Linked DNA regions of Homo sapiens: region 2 is linked to region 1. Evidence: fine-mapped expression QTL. A gene starts in region 1. The other region holds a variant in brackets. All regions are shown on one strand. Distances are between the middles of the regions.

Region 1 (8,836 bases):
TGTCTAAAATTTCAAGCAATTTTAAGGAATACAGAGAAGTAAACAATCAACCCAAAATCTTTTCATCAAAAAAATCCCTTGGTTTATAATATTCCATAAATCTTCCTGTATAGAAAGAGATAAAAATATAAGGTTATAACAAGTAGGATAAGTTGACAGATATACTTTTTCAAGTATCATCCATATGTGGATGATAGCACAGAAGCTACTTTAAAACTAAATTGTATTTAATCTTATTAAAATTAAATAAGAAAAGAAGCTAAAATGTGCCTGCAGTAATCTCTCAACTTCAGAAAACGGTTTTTTTTCATATAGAGAGATAAGTTTGAAACATATTCCCTTAAAGGTAAGAAAAAAGCATGATGAGATCAGAGGTGGGGTTTTCTATCTATCTGCGGCAACTTTAATAATATACATTGACCACTTGCTGAGGAAATCATTATACTTAAACCTCCTTACAACTCCCTTCTTTCTACCTTCAGATTTTAGTAAGTTATCCAATGATACTGACATTGTCAAGGTTTATATTTATGTTCTGATTTAAAACTGCCAAACACCAGTGGTTTAGTCTTAGATTTATTTTAAAATAAATATGATTATCATTATCACATTTGACCACAGCTTCATCGTTCATGAGATTTATGTTTTAAATTTATCTCTTAGTTGTATAAATTTGATAATGAAGTAGAATATTATAAAGGTTTTTTTCTGCTGTGTATACTGATTTATTGCATTTGAGAACAATTGACTGTTGCCTTGAAAATCTGAAGAACACCAGTGTAGGAAAATAAACATTCTTAGGTCACCCTTTCTTTCCCTCAGAACACCCTCAGGCATTGCTTGATGAGAGTGAAGAAATCTAAATGCACACTGACTTTCTTTTTCTTATATGTAAATTGCCTTTTCTGTCTGGATATTCAGAACATTATTTGTCTTTGAAGTTCTGTAACTTCAGTAGGATATATTTTAGGGTTAATTGTTCCAGGTTGATTCTTTTTTTTCCCCTGAGACAATTGTGTTCTTTTGTTCTGCTGATCTAACACTCTCTATTTCAGGAAACTAACTTTTGTGTTTCTATTACATCTTTGATTATTTTTTTCTCTTCCATTTTATTCTTTTTTTTTTTAACAGCAAAGGTTGTAAAAAGTGGTATTCTGGTAGATATGTAATAACCAGTTGTCTGAAAACAAACAAACAAACAAAACCCTGATTTGTAGCATTTGTCCATTTGTGTGGGGTAAATACTTCCACAGTGGCTGATTTCAAGCTGTTACTGAAAATGGAGTTAGGAAGCAGTACGTATGCCCAATCAGCTCTTGCAAGCTGGTGCAAGCCAGCTCCTGCATGTTACTGGTTGTACATGTGTTGGATCTCCTTTGTTTGTATTTCATAAAAATGGTCTATGATTTGTTTTATACTTATTTGTTAGTAGCTAAGTACTTGTCTATTTATCACTGTGTTTTCAGTGGTTAGTCTGTTTTTTTTTCCTATTCTCTCTTTCTTTCTTTCCTTCTTTCTTTCTTTTTTTTTTTTTTTTTTTTGTAAGACGGAGTCTCCCTCTGTTGCGCCCAGGCTGGAGTGCAGTGGTGCAATCTCGGCTGCAACCTTTGCCTCCCGGGTTCAAGTGATTCTTCTGCCTCAGCCTTCTGAGTAGCTGGGATTACAGGCGCCCACCACCACGCCCGGCTAATTTTTTTGTATTTGTAGTAGAAATGGGTTTCACCATGTTGGCCAAGCTGGTCTTGAACTCCTGACCTCAGTGATCCGCCCACCTTGGCCTCCCAAAGTGCTGAGATTATAGGCGTGAGCCACCACGCCTGGCCCTTAGTCTCTTACCTTTTGAGTGGTTTAATGGCTTTTATTTTTCCCTGAACTCTGCTAGTTTATCTTTCATTTTAGTCTTATTGTCTGTCTTTAAATCCTTATATTTCTTTATGGTGCTTTTAAAAAACATTATTCAGATTATATTGCCTTTCATTCCATTGAAACTCGGGAAAAAATATTTGTCCGAACTTTTTTTTCTGTTTCCTTGGGGGAATTCTTTAGAGACCTATTCTTTATATGCTTTTGTTTATGTTCCTTGGAACATTCTTTTCCACCTCCTATTCTTTCCCTACCTCCACTATCTGAGCAAATGTCCTGCTTCATTTCTAGAATCTATGCTGGTTCCCTTATGGTTGCGGTTCATCTTTCAAGAATTCCAGCCATTTGTAGATGCATAGCCTGGAGAAGGTAAAGAGAATGAGCTGGGTAGTCTGAACCTGGGTTCCAGCATGCTGTCTTACACATCCCTGTCAGCCAATCTACCAAGTTCTCCACCCCTCAGGTTCATCTTGTCACAGTTTTTGGTGTCAACAAGGTTGGTTGACATTAGTTTCTCATGAAATCTTGACTAGTCAGTAGCTCTGTTTTATTGAAAAACACACTTCTATTTACTATCAAACACTTATTCCTACCCCATTACAAATTACAAATACAGATTTTGACAGAGAAAATTATGTCTTAAATGGTAGACAATAAATACATGCCTGCTCAATAAATCATAATTAAACTAGTCATATAAAAAATGCATACAGCCAGATACCTAAATAGATAGTATACTCTCAATGGCTGATTACAGGTTATTTTCCAACTTTTAAATCTTTGAGCCAGAGAGAAAGTCTATTACTTATTCAAAAATAAAGTTTTAAAATCTGTCTGACAAATCAGTAGAGTTCTACTTTGTGTGTTCAAAAGTGCTGTATTCAATAAATACATCAATGTGGTGGACAAAGGAATGTTTTGCCTAAATTCCCCTTAAGTGAAGGATTTGTTACTGCAGCCACAGGGACTACAGCTGACAGAGGCCTTTAGCTGTTGTTACCTGTAAGAATTGCCAGAGCTGCCTGTCTTAAGTTCGTGCCCCTCCTAGGAACAGCCCATGCTCAATGATTGATGTGGATGTAAAGGACTGACTATCTCAGACCAACTCATGGTCATTCTGAAGGATCACCCTAGCTAGTGAGCTCCATAAGGGGCTGACAAAGGCTGCAATTGGCTTGCATCACAGCTTAGCTTCTACCTCTGCCTGCTCCTGCTTCCTGTATCCCTCCCACCCACAGATGTTGGTCCTTAGTCAAATACTGCAGGCTAAACCCTCAAGAAATGGCATTACATATAAAGAAAACCCTTAGGAATTCATGCAATGCAGTATTTACAGAAATAGCATTATTATTCATCTATAATTTTTACCTTGCACGCTTCCAAAATAAATTTGAGGCAGCTAACAATCATCATCATATTTAACTAGCAGAAACAAATGTACAAACACAAACTTTATGTATAACAGGAAGGCTATTTTAAGTGATTAAAGTTCAATATTTCAAATAAAAATTTTAACTGATACTAACCAATGACAAATAAACGATATCTCAGTAAAAATATGTTCTGGCTTTTGCATCTATGTGAGCACACATATAAGAAAGTCAAAAGTAGAAAATATTTATGCATATAGTTGTGGGGGTGACGATGGTGGCAGTGGGTAGGTTGTTAGGGCTGTGTGCAGCTTTGAGAAGGAAGAGATGAGTATGATACACAAGGACATGGGACTACTGAGGGAGAAAAGTAATCATCCATTTATCCTGTGGTTTCTGTTTTGATATGGCCAGTACAATATTAAAGGTACTAAGTGAATGGAAAACAAGCAAGGGGAAATGATAACTACTATACTATTAGCTAGAAAACTGTCTAAGGTCATTGAGTATAATAAGGAACGGAGAGATACAAATCCTTATTTTGTAACCTGCTATCTAGTTATGGGATCAGATTCCATATCCACTACTAGCTCATAAGGGTACTCTTGTGGCAGCTGAAGACAGACAAGAGCGTGGCTTCTTCATTTCCAAGGGTGAAAACTCAGGACTACTTCGTGAATGTCTTTCATTCACTAGAGTCTTGATAATGCTGGAGACTTCAAGAGTCTGGGAGGGCAGTAGGCAACTGGGAAGTTTAAGTTGAACCACAAATATCGTTGCAAACTTCAGCCCAAACATCACTGAACACAAAGGCCTGACATCTCTTGGTACAAAAATGCGCTCTATGTTTGTCATAATCTGTCGGCTTTCTTAACTAGGCAAGCCCAAGCTTGCTATTAGATGTACAATAAACACTTTGATGCCCAGTCTGAGTTTTTGTCCCAGCTCAGGAAAGGCAAGGGGACAGCCAAGGCAGACTGGTTCAGACTTGACCGGGGCAGCTCATCCAGCAACTGGCTTACTAGCCAGCTAGCAAAGTGAGCATGAAAAGGTCCAGGAATCCTTCTTCCCCTGGGCCTTAAATTCGAAATCAGACAGCAGCCAAGGAGAAGCTGGGTGGTCACAGCCTAGCCCCACAAACACTCCTTCCAGGTAAGGCTCAGCAACCCCAGGCTGGAGGAGTCTCTGTGGACACCAGAGACCATTGCTAGGCTGGCGGATTGAAGGATGGCCACTGAGAGGTCACAGATAAGGGGTTCTCTAGATGTTTGCTACTCGGAGTGGTGGGAGGGCCAGCAGCAGCAGCATCACCTGCGAGGTTGTTAGGCTTGCAGAATCTCAGGACCCAGCCAATTGAATCTGAATCTGCATTTTAATTCACAGGCACATGAAAGTTTGAGAATCACCGGTCCAGGTGGTGGCAAAGAGGCCAGCCCACTGTTCTGCTTCTCAGCCCCTCCTCCTCCCCACCTCTGCTAGCCTCTTAAGCAAAACTCAATCCTGCAATGGTCCTGAACAACATTTCTGCAAATCCCGAGTGTTGGGGGAGAGGGCGTGCAGGAGCTGCCCCCGCCGGGGACGACTGGGAGTAAACGTGATTGGATTGGTCGCCTGCTCCAGCTCCCGGCTCCTGGCTCCTGCACCCTGAGTGTAGACACGCCCCCCGACCCTCCCCCTCACCTCCACCCCCGGCCGCCGCTACAGCCTGCCTCCCGCCGGCTGCCACGAAAACCCGGAGCAGCTGCGTACGCTCATGGACAGTCCTCCGAGGGGCGAAGCCGGGCAGCTGGGCATGCTCAGTAGCTGGGGGAGGTTTGGGTGGAGAGTAGAAAGCTGTGGCTCTGCCTCTCACCCCCTCCCGCTGGCCCCCGCCCCCCTTGCCCCTACCCAGCCAGTAGTAGTTCCCCAGCGTGCGCCCGGGGAGACCGGGAACATGGCGCTGGGAGCGCTGTAGCAGCTGAGAAGGGGCTGAGGCACCGCCGCTTCGCTGACAGCCGGCCACCAGGTAGGCAGGCGCGCCTGTCGGGACTGCCTGGGTGGGTATCGGCGAGAGGAGAGGCGCCTGCGGGGATGCGCGCCGCTGGTAACCGGAGCATCTCTCTTTGCCGGGAGAGGATGCGAAGAGGACCACTGTGACAGCGCGATCCTGCATCTCCTAGGAGATGCAAAGGCTAGGGACCTGCTGCCTGGAGGGTAGGGATAGGGGACCGCCCACCCTCAACCCATGCGCTACTATCCAGCCTGGGCTCTCTACCAACCAAATAAAGGATGGTTCCATTTTGCTGGGCGGGAGGGCGTGGAGGAGAACCCCGGATTCCAGCCCTGAGAGCGTGCTGGTACCCCGAACTGCTCGCAAGCCCAGCACCAGTTCTTTGTGTGTATACAGCAGCGCACGCCCTGGGGGTGCCACGGCGCTGCTTTTCCCGAGAAGTGTTGGACATATTGCCAGAGCAGGATTCCCGCATGGTTTTTGTCTTTTGGCAGGTGTGGACTGGAGGATGCAATAGCTGAGCCTTTATGAGGCTGTGTTTTCCTTTGTTATTTGTGTGTGTGTGTGTGTGCGCGCGTGTGTGTGTGCGCGCGCGCCTGGTGGGTTGTAATGGAGAGACAGAGAGAGAACTTCTGCTTGTGGGCACCCTTGTGAGCAGGGCGTGGAAGAGGATCTTGGTTCCAAACTCTTGTCAAAATTGTGTGCCATGTCAGCCTCCTAGAGGGTAAACTTGAGAAGTCCAGGGATCATCACTGCTCAGTTTGGAGGATAAGCGCGATCGCCCTTCTTGAAACCATGTGTGTGTATATGGAGCTTTCAACTCGGGCTGAGTTAATTTGTCAACATTAGATATCAATTAAGGGAACCTGAAACGCTGAGGCTATTTATGGTGGTCTTTTTATGGCCAGAATAATAAACAAAAAGAAAAGTTGGCACAAAGCCAGAGGAAAGTGTCATTGTTAATAGTTGATGACAGCTTGAAAGACTGAACACACTTTTAGGAAAATCAGGAAACCTGGCATTCTACGGAGTTCTACCAAGACATAGCCACAGGGTCTTAGGTAACTCACAAAAATCTTCTAGTGCAACCGCTTCTCTTCTGGGGCTTGGAGGCTGTAGACACTCTTTCTCTTACCTGATATAGATGGACAAGATGCTTTTTAGAAGTCCCTCCTACACTAGAATTCTATGAAATTGACACCTTATAATAACAGCTGTGCCACCTTAGATTTGTGTATCTGTTATATTCAACAGCACAACAACTCAATCTTGGGGAGAAAGATAACCAGGTTAGTTAGGGAGAAAGGTAAATTTAAAGCATGGGTTTATTTTTTGCTTTATAATTTAAAGGATGGGCATCTTAGCATATGAAGTTTGGAGACAGTTTCCTCTGCACTCACACTATTTATTTTTATAGTCTTGTTAGGTGGCGAGAATGAGTCAGTATCATCAAAATGAAGTGGGGGAATACATAAGGAAAATGCATTTAAGTAAATTAAAGCCATAAATGTCCAATCTGATAATACCTTGACTTGGAATACATATGTGCAAGGCAGATGCACTGCTAAATGGAAGCAATATAAGCCAATGGCAAGTTCCTTGGTAACGCTGGCCTTAGACTAAAAACCTAGTGTTCTTCTGTGAGTGGGTAGAGATTGTACTAGGTCTCTGCAGCTTGTTATTTTATTAATAAATGTGAGTTTAATTGAAAATTGATATCTAAGCATTGAATCAATTGATATCTAAGCATTGAAAATCTAGTCTGGCAGTGCCTCTCCACTCTGTCAGGACCTGCTGAAATGCTGTAGGTATGGGAGGCAGGTGTTTGAACTCTGACTCTTCTATGTTTAGCTTTGTGATTCTGGGAAAATTATTTAACTTTCCTAAGCCTCAGTTTCCTCACTTATAGAACAGTCCTCGGAATAGTAAGACTTATCTAGATGAGTAGATGTACGGATTAATCATAATTTAAACCACCAGGAAAATGGTGGTGACTGTTATGAGTAAGAGGGAAATGGATATTTACTGAACCTATGCTATGTGCCCTATATAATGATTCAGGCTCAAACATGTTAATTCCCTTAAATTTCCCAACTATATTAGTTTCCTAGGGCAGTTATAACAAGTTACCAAAAACTGGGTGGCTTAAAACCACAGAAATTTATTCTCTCATGGTTCTGGAGGCTAGAGGTCCAAAATCAAGATGTTGTCAGGGCCATGCACCCTCCAAAACCTCTAAGGGAGGATCCTTGCTTGCCTTTTCCAGCTTCTGGTAGCCCCAGGCATTCCCTGGTTTGTGGCAGCATAACTCCAATCTCTGCCTCTGTATTCACATGGCATCTTCCTCTCTGTCTCTGTCCCTGTGTCCAAATTTCCCTTTTCTTATACGGACATCATTCATATTGGATTTAGGACCTGTTCCTTATTCAATATGACCTCAAATTAACCAGGTTACATTTGCAAATGCCTGATTTCTAAACGTCATATTCACAGGTTCTGGATGGGCATGAATTCTTGGGAGACACTCTTCAGCCCAGTACACCAACATCCCTATGAACTGTGTTTGATGACAACATTAACATTATGTTAGCATAAGAGGTAAAGATAGAGTAGCATGGATTCAGAAAATACTTTAAAGATTATTTAAGGGAACTAACCTATTTGAGGCTTTATATACACAACCATGGTAGGGAAGAGCAGGGTTCAAAAGTACCTCATTTATGCATGTCACTTACCTGGGAGCCAAGACAACCCAGGACCTGGATCTTCTAGAGTATCTCAAACATACTGTGCCCCCAGTTGATTTGTTGATGTTGCCTTCCATCCTTCTTGCTAACCTTCCAAACAAATGCAAAAAAACCAAAATGCATTAAATAACAAAAACAATAATAGCAACAAAGGCAAGCTAACAACTTTCTAGTCCTTCTTAACCTGGTAAATGGCACCACTATCCATCGAGTTGCTTTAACCAGAAACCCAAGAATCACCTTTGACACCTCCTTTCCCTTGACCCTCCACATTTAAAACCATCATGCAGTCTTATAAATGCTATTTTCTCTATAGATCTCTAAATACATCTTGATAAATTATTTCTATCCCCACCACCACCACTATCAAACTGCAAGAGATGATAATCTCTTACCTGGACCACTAGAATAACTTCCTAACAAGACCCCTGGTTCCTTGCCTGGCTCTTCTAATCCTTCATCCAGAGCAGAGAGGATAATGTCAGTTCCCTACATAAAATACCACCCACACACCTGGGACAGATTCCAGAGACTCCTAGAGCCTCTGATACTTGGCCAGCCTCATCTTGTGCATCTCTTCCTCTTGATGCTGTCACACTGACCCTCTGTCTGTTTCTGGAACATCCCCAACCATCTTCCCTCTATATTTTACCAGTCTGGGTCATACTCATCCCTTGGGCTTCCTTGATCTCTCTTCCCCACCGACCCAACTCTCTCATCATCCTTTCACTTTTATTCCACAGCACTTATTCCAGTTTGCAAATGCCTGTTTGTTTGGCTATGTCTGTAAGCTCTATAATGGCCATTTATTTTATGTCTTATATGCAGAAGGTGCTCAATGAACTTTTGGTGAATGAGTGAAGGAA
Region 2 (8,836 bases), 660 kb after region 1:
TTTAGCACCTGCTATTTAATATGGGATTCCCTTCCAGGGAGTTTTTCCACAAGGAAGCAAAGTCTTAGGCTGGGCGTGGTAGCTCTCACCTATAATCCAAGCAACTTGGGAGGCCAAGGCAGTATGATTTTTCAAGGCCAGAAGTTCGAGACCAACCTGCACTACATAGTGAGACCCCTACCAGTGGGGCATGGTGGCACACACCTGTAGTCCCAGCTACTGGGGAAGCTGAAGCAGAAGGATGGCTTGAGCCCAGGTGGTCAAGGCTGCAGTGGGCTATGATTGTGCCACTGCACTCCAGCCGGGGTGGCTGACAGAGTGAGACCCTGTCTGAAAAATAAATAAATACATAAATAGGTAGTAAACTATTCATGGGCAGATGGGCAGCTAGCTGCAAGTTTCACTTAGGTGTGGTTCTGTCCCAACAAAAAAACTAGAGTATTTTACAGTAGGGCTAGCATTACACAAATTGAATGTACAACTGTCAAGATTTTTAAAACAGCTCCTAGATGCGTGTGTTATATGTATACAACACATAAGATCACCTGACAGCTCATAAATCGGTTCATAGTGGCGATGTTTTATTTCCGTAAGAGTCAAAACTAGTTGAATAAAAAAAAATTGCCTCCTAATCATAAAAACCAGAGGTTTTTTTTTTTTTTTTTTTTTTGAGGCACAATGCTGGGTCACCACCCTCAAATGGTTCCTTTCTATATTAATTTAATTTCAAAACAACATAAAACCTATGAGCATAGTAATGTTATCAATCTGAAGCATTTCTAGAACTGAAGAAACCATGGATGGCTTCTCAAATAGAGCACCTGCAATGACATCACGACACAGTGTCCACCATGCTGGGGGTTTCACCTGGAACTTTAAAGAAAGTGCTTATGAAGGTAAAGGAAACATTCACCAAAAAACCACTTTGACTCATTCTGAGCCAAATAAAGCTATCTACTCAAGTAAAATTTGAAAACCCAGCTGAAATAAAGCCATAAAAGAAGCTAAAGAATGCTGATCCCTTTTCCGTTTTTTCCCATGACCACAATACTGAGGTGGTCACCTTTGAGCAAGGATCGCCTTCAGAATCATTGCAGAAGGTGGTGGGGGTTGAAGTCAATGTAGGAAATAGGATGCCTTCTACCTTCAATTTAATTCCTTCTTTGAAACGTCCCATCTTCTGGTACCTTCCAATGGCTTTAGATTTTTAAAATTAATTTTGCCTCTTTTTGCAGGAAAAAAATGTAAACTTGCAAAAACTGATAGTGCAGGGAAAGTAGCTCACGTTAAAGCAGATTCTTCAGTTTATAAATATATTTACTATAGAATTTTTTAATAGCTTCATAGATTAATCCACTTGTCTCTGGTTATAAAGACCCAGGGTATAAATATGTTACAATGAGCTATATGAAGTAACTAATATTTAATCATTTTGATCAACAAAAACAGCAATTTCGTATGGTTCAGCCTAATACCAGTGAGGTATCAAGATATCTGATGTAAAATTAAAATAATATTTTTCAATAACACATACAAACAGGAAAGTGAGATTCCATTTTCCCTAATTCAATTTGTATACAACTTTAAACGTCTGTATACAATATTTCCAAAAACCATTAAAAAACACTTAAAATATTACTTATCACTAATTATAACTACAAGCAAGAGAAGTTGAAAATAATGATAAATTAGACCAGCATTCTTATCTAAATAAATATCTCCAGCTTGATGGTCCTTTTTGATACTACTCCAAAACTGAAACTTAAAAATCTAGCAGCTTTTCTTCTTTCTTATGTGTGGTGATGGAAAAAAATTTCTACGTCCTCTGTGGTATCACAGCCCTTTCCCCCATGCCTCCCGCTCTACCTGGTTTTAGAGTTGCATCTCCATCTTGTTCTGGAGAAGCCTCACCAGCCCTCATCACTTCCTCCTCCCCAGAACTAACTGAGGGAGGGAGGGAAATGTGGCCGTTGTGTAGTGGGAGATGGGCTTAGTGACCCAATCTGGAGTTACCCCATTATGCTTGGGGTACCTTGGCTGGGACACCAACAATACAGCACATTTTCACGAGATAGGTGAGCCCCAGGCTTCCCTGGGCTGTAAGAGGGACTTGGGCTGGAGAGTTAGAGAAAACTCTGGGACACCACTTATGTTTGGACAACATCCTCCGGGGCAGGGGAGATTTCAAATGGTGCTCTCCCTGTAGTTTAATAGACACAGACAGATTCTTCCTAGCTGTGCTGTGAGGCAGAGCAGCGTGACTCCCTGACCCCTGCAGAAAGACACGTTGAATCCTGAAGTCACTGAGTGGTAGCTTCAGGCCCTGTAAGCGTATTCTTCCTTGTAAATATGATGAAAATGAGCAATTAGATGTGACCAAACAGAATAGGTATTTATTACTTTTCTTTCACATGATCCCCAAACTGTTGCTGCTGGTGGTGTCTCAGAGCATGGGAAGGACATGGCTGAGACAGCTGAGAAGGGAGAGCTACACCAGGAAGCCCCTTAGCCTGTCGGCAGAGGGCCAAGGTTTCAGCACTGGGTGACCCAACTAGTCCCAGTTTAAAAATCCGAAGTCCCATGTCCTAGGCGCCTGAGCTGGGAGTTCATTTCCTAGAGACAACAGGCCAACCACCTGCCCTTCAATCTCTACCTCTGCCAGAAGCTCCCTGTCACTTGCTATTACAGCCCTGCTATTTGTTGAGGAGAAGTCTGTAAACCACCCATCCATGCACTCAGTAAATACTACAGATGCATCTTCTGTAATAGCTCACAGGTTCCCGGGTTACTGAGACTTGAGTTAGGCCTAGCGATGATTGAGCAAATTCCCCAAAACCCTCAATTTTAGACAAAAAACGAAGAACATGCCTCCCGTAGACACTTCAGCCTGGTATAATGGGTAGCTTCCAGCACAGCCAACTTTAAAGAGTTCTTTTAACTGTGAGAGCCCCAGAAGCAGGTGATTGATAGCCTAAGGATAAGAAAAAACCCTCAACCCTTTACTCACTTTACATGGGGTAAACCAATAGTCAGCAGCTAGCTACAAGAATGGAGCCCAAACCTGAAGACATTTAAAGGCAAAGAAGAACCAATTCTTCAACAAGGTAATTCTTATTGCTATAAAACCACTCCAGCTAATGATCAATTCATTTATACAAAACTTATTTTTTGAACATTTTCCACGGGCCAGGTTATAGGTGAGACGCTATGGACAAAGAACAACAAAACAGACACCGCCCTCTCAACTCCCACTCTCATGACTGTTGCTAAAATCTATTACTCACTTTGCCCTTCCTTTTCTCAAAATCATTTCATAAAATTAGCCCAAGGTCTGAAAGCAATTTCCTAGAACCCCTATTATTGATCTTCTTTCTCTCTTTTGGGAGACTGTATTGGTGTTATTCTAAGAAGCTCTACAGAACAATTATTTGTCTCACTTTGTTGTCCTAGTGAGATTGCTAGGGACTGAACATTTGTGTCCTCCACTCCCAAAATTTCCATAATGAAGCCCCAATCCCCAGTGTAATGGTATTTGGAAGTGGGGTCTTTGGGAGGTAATTAGAGTTGGATTAGGTCATGAGGATGGGGCCTGTATGATGGGATTTACAGCATTATAAAAGAACAGAGACAAACACTCTGCCTCCACCATCCCCCCGACCTGAGTGCCATGTAAGGACAATGACAAGACCATCTACAAACCAGAAAGAGGGCCCTCTCCAGACACGGAATCTGCAGGCACCTTGACTTTGGACTTCCAGCCTCCACAACGGTAAGAAATGGCTTTTGTTTATAAGGCACCTAGTCTATGGCATTTTGTGATAGCAGCCTGAAGTAAGAGACTCAGAAGGTATAGGGAAAAACACCTAAAAAATTAGGACTTGAGGAAACACTTTTGATTGCTAGGGACTATCAAGACTTACTTTCAGATACACCTTTAACAGTGATCAATATGGCAAGCAAAAACAATGCTTGGTACCCTGAGCCTCATCTGACAGACACCTCATAACATCTGAAGTCTGTTTGCAGAAATGAATTAGATCAGCACCATTTGGGAGGTCTCAAAAAGACTAATATCATGAATAGAATGTTAGTGAGGAGGGTGGCACAAAGTGCATGAGGCCAAAGACTTTTGATGACCCTCTATGAATGGCAACCCTTAGGACATCTCTGATGGCTTTATCTTGGTCAGCTATTCAAAGCTTGGTTAAGGTCATAGTTTCCAAAGAACTTTCTCTGCATTACAATCAGGCACAACATATGGGTCCTGCAGCTTAAGTGCCTCACTCACAGGGGACTTATCATCTCCACAAGTCTCACTGTAGCAGTTGGCAAGCCCATATGGGATAATAAATTCAAGGACATTTGTTTATTTTTGTGCTCAAATGCTTAAATAATTTTGTAGGAACAAAGTTTTCAAGGTATCACAGAAATAGCATCCAGACAGAATCACATTCCAAACTCCTTTCTAATGAGATGATTCTTGGGAAATCTGAGGAGCTTTTTCTTGCAAAATTTGCACCTGAAAGTCCTTGAATGGGTGAAATGGGCGTGAATGTGATCTTCAACCAAGGGAGGAATTGAGAACACTGAAGTCATCTGCATAGTCTTTGTGGCAAGGTTGACTGCACTCTAGCAGCTTAGCAAGAGTCCCACCTTTGTGTGAAAGGCAGCAGTTATATCAGAAATTACTTATTCCCCT[G/A]TGCAGAAAGGAATTGAGGGTTGTAACACCAGCCATGCTAAACTGAGTTTAGGCAAGATGTAGCCCTAAAGAACTGACTTCAGCATGCATCCTTCCATAGACCAATCCCATATGATCACTAACTAATAAATGCCCCAATTTGCAGAATTCAGATCGTAGCACCAGCTTTATAATGGAAAAATCCCCCATCAAGAGGCTGATTCTACTTGTGAGATTTAAATCGCTGAACAATGAGTACTAATGGTCTTTTTTATTTTGAAATTGTTTATTGTCAGAGTATAAGCTAGCCGATCTTGACTAATACACCATCATTTTTATTATCCATAATAATTACTATCCATAATAATACCAAGGCAGAAAAATTTTTATTATGATGAATATTGGGGCCACAAGATTGTTAGGACAATACATGCTCCTGTTCAGAACTTTCTATTTCTCTTACTTTGATGCACAGTGAGAGATTTCATCATGAAAATTCCAGAACATATGTTGATTTATGTCTAGCATTTAGAACTAAACATTCCTAAACAAGGCATCTGAAGCACAGCACATGCTTGTGTTTTATAGTGAATTCTATGTGTGTTTTTACCAATAATTCTTGTAGGTGGTTCTCCTTTTTTCCCCTCATTCTCACCAGAGAAGGAATTTTATGGGGATAGTGGTGTGTTTTGTTTCTTTCATTTTATGCAAGGCAAATAATTTTAGAATTTTCAAGCTGAAGAGAACCTGAGATAATCTATTCTAACCCCTAGCTTTGAGGAAGAGGACAGTGAGGTGTAGAGAAATGAAAACAAGCAAGTTCATATAAAATGTTCCTTCATAACAGCTTTCTCTCATTCACTAAAACAAGCATGTACTCAAAGAGGCTAAAATGCCCACAAGTCTAGACTGCCAACCTTTGGCATACTTAACTCAGTATCAAATGACTCATCTCCTTCCTCAGTGGAAAACCTGGGTAAATCTGCTGTATTCGTTTTCTATTGCTCCTGTAATAAAATTCACAAACTAGTGGCTTTAAACAACACAAATATGTCATCTTACAGTTCTGTAGATCAGAAATGCAGCATGGATCTCACCTCTAAAATCAAGATGGGAACAAGGCTTCTTTCCTTTAAGGAGGCTCTAGAGGAATCATCCATTTCATTGTCATTCAAGCTTCTAGAAGCCACCCACATTCCTTGAAGTAATGGGGCCATGAGCCAAGGAATCTCATGGCCCTATTACTTCACCTTTGAAGCCAGCAATATTGAGTCTCCTGCTCCCTTTCATGCTTTGAACTCTCCCTCTCTCTTCTCCTCACTGTTTTACTTGTTCCTGGTTTACCATCACCCCAACCTCTATGTGCCACCCTATCCACCTGCACAATGGAAAAATACCCTTTCAAAGCCACCAATCTTATCAAACAGTCCCCTATTCAAAATCCTTCAGTGATATCCCATTACCCATAATTGTGGTCCTCAAAAAATCTGTGCCTATACCCCTCTAGACAAATCTAGAAAAACTCACCAAAAGTCAATTTTAAGTTATCTTCATTTTTTATCATAAGTTCAAAAGGGTTGTTAAAGATATAATTTCTAGAATGTTCTAAATGTTGACAATTTAAACATAATAGCTGTTAGATATACCTAAATGTATCTAGAATGTAAACACCAAAATTATTTAAAAATAAGCAAGTTCACACTTAACATTTATGTTTTATAATGCCTTTTTTCTATTTCTTTTCTACCTCCCCTGCAAAATTTTATCCTAATGAATACATTTTTGTGGCTAAAAGTATTTTATTGATCTATCATATATCCCTATATACAACAAAATATATACATAATTTAGAATTTTAAGTTTAAATTTACTTTGAATTTAGCCCCTAAGGGTGAAATAATGTATTTTAATTAAGTTATACTAAAGTTTTCACTGGTAGGCAATTGACAAAAACCACATAAATATCATAAATATTAATATAATTTTAGTAATTATTAAATATAAAACTTTACTTGAAATATATCTTTTGATAAAATGGATAGGGCTTTTAAAAAATTAATCCATACATCTATGAATATTACTTAATGCTAAAATAACAAAGTTTTACCATCAATTTTATTCCAGTTTTTCATTTTTCTTCACATAAGTGCTGATAAAATGTTTTTGCCCTAAGAAAAGTTTCAATCTCTGAACTCCTTTTGAGTTTTATGCCACCACAGAAGGTGATCCAAATTCAAAATTATTTTTATTTATTTATTTATTTATTTTTTGAGACAAAGTCTCACTCCTATTGCCCAGGCTGGAGTACAGTGGTGCAATCTCAGCTCACTGCAACCTCCGCCTCCCAGATTCAAGCAATTCTCCTGCCTCAGCCTCCCAAGTAGCTGGGATTACAGGATCCCGCCACCACAGCCAGCTAATGCTTTTGTATTTTTAGTGGAGACGTGGTTTCACCATGTTGGTCAGAATGGTCTCGAACTCCTGACTTCAGGTGATCCACTGGCCTCAGCCTCCCAAAGTGCTGGGATTACAGGCATGAACCACCTGGCCTGGCCAAAATTATTTTTAACGATTTATCAACTGATGATACAAATATGTTTTAAGCACAGTTTTGTTGCAGAACACGGTGTTTTTCTGTTTAGCACTTGGAATGTTTTTATACCATAGGACAATGTACCATATTAATATTTTGGAAAGATGAGATAAGTATCTTCCTTCTACAAAATGAGATGAGGACAGGCAGGTGTTAGGCAGATCAGTTTTAAGAAAGGGTATACGTAAAAGTTTAAAACATGGAAAGTAATCCCTTAAGAATCGCTGAGCCCTTGCATGTATTCCATTAGAATATTTTCATTTAGGCCCAAGTGTATGCCTAAAGTCATCTTGAAAACAAGTAGGATCAAATCAAAACGTCTTTGCATACAACACAATGTCTTTCATGACTTGATGCAAGCTCACTTTCCATTTCCCACCCTTATCCATCTACACCCCTTTTCCAACACTAGCTTGAGAAACTGAATTACTTACATTGGTTCTAAGTTGCTTTCAAGGGGAACATGTGTCAAAATGACTTCCTCCCTTGATTATACTTTGCCCCCAAGCCTACCGCTATTTTAGACACAAGAGATGAGTCACTGAAATTTATACCAGCACCTTGGCCCTGTCTCAGTCCAGTCCCGAGGCTCTGCTTGGTATTCGACACAAATTAACAGCAGTAGTTTAATTAGTTATCATATCTTTAGGATAAAATCTGTAAAACAAACCCAAACCCATTCAACCACATCGTTTATTCCCACACTCCAGGAACACTATTCAGCAATTCCAGCATTTCATATATAGAGACGAGGTTATTTTTATTACTCTGCTCTCCTGCCCCTACTAACATGCTGCTTTTATTTCTATTGGATATATTTTTTCACATTCTGCTTAGTGTCACAATGACCTGTGTATAAATCTGACTTTTTCTGTCTCCATGGGGCCACAGCCATGGGTTCCATCTTCATTTGATTCCTTATTTGATTTCCAAGTTCCAACCACCCCTCCTTGAAAAATCTTTCTTTCTTCGCCACCAGTCCATCATTGTTGCTCCTTATATAATCATTCTTTCTCAGTTTCCTCCATTTGCACTCCCTTTGCCCACTGCTTATCCCAGAAGTTCTTAAACTTTGCATGATACAATACCAGAAGTCACAGCCCCAAAATTGTGGCAGTTATCTTTTCCCAAGTCAGAGGGAAAAAAGCTTCTAACAGTTTCCTCATGTTAGAGTTTCTATTATTTTTCTTAAAAGTTTGCTATTTGACTGTCAGTAATGGCCAGCAAATGACTAAAGTAAACAAACACTAAGGAAAACACAGAAATTACTTATATGTAGTTTAAGGGTTTTGTGTATATGCTCATGGGTTGGAATTTTATGCATAAAGTAAGATCTTATATTTTACTTTGAAAACTGGTGCTTCTTCATATGATATAATAAAATATGTATACATTTCCCTGTTTGTGTGTATGTATATACATTTACATATGTGTGCATAATGTAAATAAATATGCAGTAGATATCAACATAAAATTAAGGTTTTTTTCTATTTGTCTGATAATACATGTAAAAATGGCCTAGTGAAAATACTCAGATACTGCTGGATGGAATGAAAATAGTTCAA

Which allele goes with the higher level. Positions count from the first base shown, and alleles are read on the strand shown. Sizes are in standard deviations (SD) of each study's normalised expression.
As copies of G replace A in region 2, the expression in nucleus accumbens of the gene that starts at base 4,924 in region 1 goes down (moderate effect, 0.65 SD a copy in GTEx).

The links.
Region 2: its variant is fine-mapped to the expression of PAK5 in nucleus accumbens (GTEx, PIP above 0.99).

What each region holds. Positions count from the first base shown.
Region 1 is chr20:9,835,164-9,843,999 of GRCh38, reverse strand. PAK5 (p21 (RAC1) activated kinase 5) reads left to right here and starts at 4,924. Exons shown (of 10, transcript NM_177990.4): 1 at 4,924-5,238.
Region 2 is chr20:9,176,434-9,185,269 of GRCh38, reverse strand. The region is part of intron 2 of PLCB4 (phospholipase C beta 4); the gene reads right to left. Among named protein-coding and RNA genes, the nearest start is that of PLCB4, 110 kb to the right of the region's middle. RefSeq lists an enhancer at 4,425-5,040. The variant G/A (reference allele first, on the strand shown) is at 4,700.